2 separate regions of the Homo sapiens genome follow, and region 1 is linked to region 2. The links come from fine-mapping of genetic effects on gene expression. Tissue or cell type: B cells. Region 2 holds a variant in brackets; the other region holds the start of a gene. All regions are shown on one strand. Distances are between the middles of the regions.

Region 1 (2,917 bases), 26 kb after region 2:
AAGAACAGTAATTATAAATACATAGTGACGGCCGGGTGCGCGGTGGCTCACGCCTGTAATCCCAGCACTTTGGGAGGCCGAGGTGGCCAGATCACAAGGTCAAGAGATCGAGACCATCCTGGCCAACATGGTGGACCCCGTCTCTACCAAAAATACAAAAATTAGCCGGGCGTGGTGGTGGGCGCCTGTAGTCCCAGCTACTCAGGAGACTGAGGAAGGAGAATCGTTTGAATCCGAGAGGCGGAGGTTGCAGTGAGCTGAGATTGCGCCACTGCACTCCAGCTTGGCGACAGAGCGAGACTCTGTTTCAAAAATAAATAATTAAAAATAAATAAATACATAGTGACTGGCGCCAGCTGCCACCACCCAAGAGAAGGGCGGGTGTGACTCCTTCCAGGAAGTCTCCACAGCATGGAGAAACCTTCTGGCGCACCACGAAGCGGGCAGGAAAGATTTTAGCTCTACCCCTTATGAATAGTGTGAACTTGGGCAAGTTTTTTAAGCCACAGTTACCCCATCTGTCAAAAAGAATGATGATGTCTTTCCAAAAGTCATTGTGAAGAATAAAATTCAATGAAATAGCACTAGTAAAGTACCCAGCACATCATGCATGTTCAATACATGGTAACTAATTTAATCACTCTACCTCCTTCCACTACCCAACCCTGCCCAGAATCTCCCATGGCCTGATTATGACATATTAACTGAGTTTTGCATTTTCTCCTTATACCTCTTTTTTCTCTTTCTTTTTCTTGATCTCTCTCCCTCTACCTTCTCTATCTCATTCCTCCACCCTCAGACCAAACTGACCCTGGTAGACAAAAAACATATTCCCTGTTATTTGTCATTCTTATGCAGATATTTTAAAAATTCCTGATTCTTCACTAAAATCAATGACTGTAACATTCAGTATTTGAATAACAGATTTACAAAACCAAAATTAGGCACCTAAAAATATATATAACTACCACCAATGAACTGCTTTGGGCATTGCAAATAATTCTTGCCTTTATGTGCCAAAGATCTTTTGTAGAAAAAGAAAGCTTCTCCACTTAGGAACTAAGTGAAGGACACACATCAAAGCACCATCTTCAACCTCAGCCTTTCACTGCAGTCACAACTCATAACTTCTCTGCAAAGAATAAGAATTATTACTCACCACTGGGGATCCATTTTGGCTGCTTCTGCTGTGACCTAATATCTGGAAATGACCCCACTCATCCGTGTGTCTGTGCTAGTCCCTGTTACAGCAGCAGAGAAGCAAAGCTTTCACCCTGTGCAAGCCTTCCTCGGCAATGACTGTATACCTACCCAGCTAACTTTCTTTAAGAGAAGCTGTTCCTCTTTTCTCTACAGATTTTGACCACACTTGAGGAAGAAATTTAACCCTTTCCTTGCAGTTTAAACTCATTGACGTAGGTCTATATGTATTAAAGAATATATAATTCAGTAGCTTGAGTTCCAGACATGACGTTAAGATGAGCCTGAATAAAAAATCTCCCCTCTTGAAATTCCCTCAAAAAACCTAGAAAATAAAATAATTAGAAAGAGAAAACAAACCTCCGCAGCAACAAAATAGAATAAAGAGGCATTCTACAGATTTTGATAAGATAATAAAAAGTGATTTATTGTGGATGTGGATTGGGAGTGAGTAGCCACCTAACCCTGCCAATTTCCACAACCAAAGTGTGGAGAGTTTCACTGAGCTGGGGTGGGGGGATGGGAGATGGGGAGATGTTCTGTAAGGACTGCATAACCAAGGAGGGCAGACAGAAGCTACTGCTTTTATTATTTCATTCCTACTATAGCCAAGGATTACATTGATGAAAGCGAATATTCTGAAACAGAAGTCTGAAAAAAAGGCAGCATTATAAAATTAATAGATGTCCCTAAGAGACAAACATAGAATTAATCAAGCAGAAACTATACTAGAAGATATTTCCTCGTATGAATTAAAATGGGCATCATCTAGAAACTCAAACTGTTTAGTGTATCAAAGCAAAAGTTATGAAAATCGATTCTCATCCAGACAAATCATTTTGAACATTTTAAATTCCAAAGGCAAAGCTAAAAACAAAATGAAAACAGAATGACTACAGAGAAACAAAAAACAACTTGGCATCTTACTCAACCCTAAATGGCAAAAAACAACAGAACAATATCTGCAGAATTTTGAATTAGCATTATCTACCTAGATAAGATGCCAGTTAAGTGTCAAGTCAATAGAAATATGTCACCAAGCAGGCAAGAAAACAACAACTGCAACAGAAATACCACCACCAAGACAGCCTTCCTAAATAAATTATTTAAGGATATATTCCAGAATAATAAATGAATTAAAATAGCCTTAAAATGGAGAAGCCATGGCTGAAAACACCAGTGCTGAGCTTTAAAGCAAGTTAAACATGGAGAAATAAGGCTAAATAATTATAAATTAGTTTAGACCAAAATGCTAAATAAGAAAAACTTATTAGAAGTAGATTACATATATTATTTCAAGGAAGTTTAAAAATAGCAGATGACATCACTGCTAACTAGAGCAAGGAAGCAAAATCAACACAATTATTAATCTTCAAATAAGAAGATAGAACAATGATTATTTTATCAACTTTGATAATTTCATCTGGATTTGAGAATTTTAAAAAATGAAGACAGCAATAATATAAGTTATCTATCTTCAAAATTATTGCAGAGCAGGAGTGCAAATAAAATAGTATTTATAACTACATAACACATCAGAAATAAGATGAGATAAAAAAATCCATGTAAACCTCATTTGTTATAAATATTAAATATTAAAGGTATGGGATGTCATTTTTCAGTTTCTTGGTAGCAGTGTACACACTCAAATTTCCATTTCTTGGTATCAATGCATACACTCAAATTTTTATTTAAGATAGCATAAGCATTTTCTCCT
Region 2 (2,917 bases):
TAGAGAGCTACAAGCAATGACTGGATTTTCTTGTGAGGTGATAAGCTCCCTGTCACAAGTACTATTCAAACCAAAGTGGGGGTGATAACACAGAAGAGACATTTTAGGAGCGAATCTCGAATTGAGTAAGTGGTTGAACTCATAACTTTTCAGTTCACCTCTAAGATTCTCATTACATTTCCAGGAATAAGGAGAAATAAAGGAGAACATCTGGACACTCCATCGCTCTCACCCTGAGTCAGTTCCTCTCATTTTTAACACAGTAGACAATATGGTACATTTAAAGGATCCCTGTCTGGGTAGAGTCTGCTGAGCTGGCTACAAGTGATCCAGGGCTTCAGAAGACATGGAGAACAGCAAGCACTCCTACAGCTTGGAAGGGTGGTGTAAAGGTGGTAATAGTTGAGCTGAGCTTTGACAGGTGAGTCAGACTTGGTCTCAGAACTGTACCCTGCATGTTAGAACTTGCACGAGTTGATTTCTGTTATAGCAGATGAAGTTCCACCCTGTATTGGTTTTAAGTAATTAAGTCCACTCATTCTGATACTCCCACTTATGAGGGCTGTTAGCCTGGGCCACTGCACTGTTTAACAGTCTTCCTCTGAGAAACGCTGTCTTCCTTTAACAATAACAATGGTTAATTTCCTAGAACTCAACGTGGTAGCTATCGTCCTCTGTCCTTGAAAGGCTTTGCAAGCTTCCAATAATTCTTCCCTAGACAGATTCCTGATAATATATAACCCTGCATCCGAGGCATCTGTTTAATGGGTCTCAAAGAACTGATGCTTCCGAAAGAACCACTTTTTAGTGTTGATTGAGTTTCACTGGATAAATATTTCAGCCATATTTTTGATACACACATAACATCAAGTATAACCTTTTTGATGCTTTTCATTGGTATATATTCTTTGACGACTTTCTGAGACACAATCAAATAACAGTTTTTAAGGACACATGGAAATGGAGGAGTGACCATGGAATTTTTACAGGACAGTAAGAAAAGCTGACTGGCCTGCAGCAGAGGTTGTCTTTGGATAAATAATGGGAGATTAGTTTCTATAAGTAAAGCAAGGAGCAAGATAGCCTAATAGGGCATGGAAAGTCAAATAAGGAATTCATATTTAATTTAACAGAAAATTGGAAGTTTGGAATTAATAGTTTGGGAGCAGAAAAATGGTGTAATGACAGCTTAAAGAAAATAAGCCTGTCAAGAGGTGACGGCTGGTATCAGGGTGATCAAGAAAGCCAGTATTACAGGCTCGTCGACTTGAGATGGTGAGCCTGAAGCAGTAAAGAGGCAGTCGGCATGATGAGGAAGGGATGGGTGTGAGGGCTGCCTCGATGGAACATGAACACTTCTTGGTGTCTGGTGGACAGAGGACATGACTGGAGGTGGAGACGTCCTCCATCCTGAGCTCTGTTTTCCTCAAGCTCCCACCAGCCATGTCTCCTTCTAGCTTAGGCTGGATTTTATGTCTGACTTGGTTTCCAGTCTCTCCTTGGAGCAAATCCCCCTTAT[T/C]CCCCATTTGTGGAGATTTTTCTGACCGAATGCTTGTTTTCTTTCGTGAGTTGTTCTTTCTGAAACTCATTTGAGAGCACAGTGTTTCCATACAGACATGAGGAGAGCTGCATCAAGGATGAGTAGGTGCAGAGAAGAAATGTCTTCGCAGATTTAGAAGGAGCAGAGGGTGCTTTTATCCACCTTCCAATATTGTAGGCAACTGAAATATTAAAATGAAGAATGCGTTCCCCTCACTGGCCTAGAAGAAGGAGCATAGCATGGCGATAGCATTTAGCTTTTCCGGTCCCCCAAGAGCAAATCTGTGTACAAGACACGCCTAGTTCTCCGAGTTGTATCTAGAATCGAAACTTTCTGAATCAAGGCACACCCTATTTCAAACTATTGATGAATTTGAGAACGATTTTTTTTCCTTTTTGCCAAAAAGGTAAGGATCATGCAAAGTTTCACAGTGCTTCTTCTAGTCTGTGCTCATCCACTCGAGGGCTCTGACTGTCAGGTATGAGGCTCATAGAACTCACTAAAAGGGAGCCATGCCCATCCTGGTCCCCTAAGGTAGCCTGATTCTTGTTTTCTCAGAAACAGCATCATGGTCAAAGAGAGGAAGCCAACATTTCAGGGCCACAACTTGAGGGGCCTTCTCTCCCCATACTGTGCACCAGTCCTACCCTGCTGCTTGGAATTCCCACATTACTCATTCCTTGGGCTAAGGCATTTTTTGAAAGCCCCTGTTAAAATGCAAATGCTAGCTGGAAGGAAGAGGGTTTTTTTTGTTTGTTTTTAAGCCATTAGGCATTAGGTTCAAGTTAATTTATCTAAAAAGGACATGGAACTTAGAAAGGAATCATATCCGTCCATGAATAAAGGAGGACCGATAGGGAACGAGATGCTTCCCGGTGTTGAGGTCTCAGGGCCGTGATGGGGAGGTGGAAAGTGCTGAAGACACACTTTTCTTCCTCCACACATATTCAAAATGGCGCCTATTTCCCAAACCTCAGCCCGAGTGTAAGCCAATGTACAGTTCGGAAACAGCACTGTATAGGAGAAGAGAGGAGAGATAAGGGCCAGTAAAGGGCTGTGTGCCCAGCCTATGGCCCTGTCCTTTCTCCCACCCCACAAATACTCTTACCTGCCTGGCCATGAAAGGTGGATTGCCAGCACTAGAATGGACTGTGGAAAAATGCCCAGGGACCTCTCTGCCACTCTCTGTGCTTGCTTTTGCTCTAGTTTTATCTCTTTGAAGCTTCAATCCCCTGGCCTAGGGACCCCTAACCTCAACTCCCACCTCAGTCTGATTTTTGAAACATGGTATTTCAACCTTGATTTTTCTGCTGAAGAATCTGGCTTGGCTTATCTCTTCATCTTTCTCATGTTTTCTCCCTACCTGCCCTAGCCTCA

Evidence for each region. PIP is the estimated chance that this variant, and not a neighbour inherited with it, causes the effect. A credible set is the group of variants that fine-mapping cannot tell apart.
Region 1: it holds the start of CD86, and the variant in region 2 is the best candidate, but not a certain one, in a credible set for the expression of CD86 in B cells (Fairfax 2012, PIP 0.73).

The regions. Positions count from the first base shown.
Region 1 is chr3:122,053,746-122,056,662 of GRCh38, reverse strand. It overlaps CD86 (CD86 molecule), which reads right to left and starts at 1,301. Exons shown (of 7, transcript NM_175862.5): 1 at 1,160-1,301. The coding sequence starts at 1,173. It also overlaps a transcript of ILDR1 not described here.
Region 2 is chr3:122,079,310-122,082,226 of GRCh38, reverse strand. The region is part of intron 1 of CD86 (CD86 molecule); the gene reads right to left. Among named protein-coding and RNA genes, the nearest start is that of CD86, 25 kb to the right of the region's middle. RefSeq lists enhancers at 324-373, 394-543, 574-663. The variant T/C (reference allele first, on the strand shown) is at 1,520.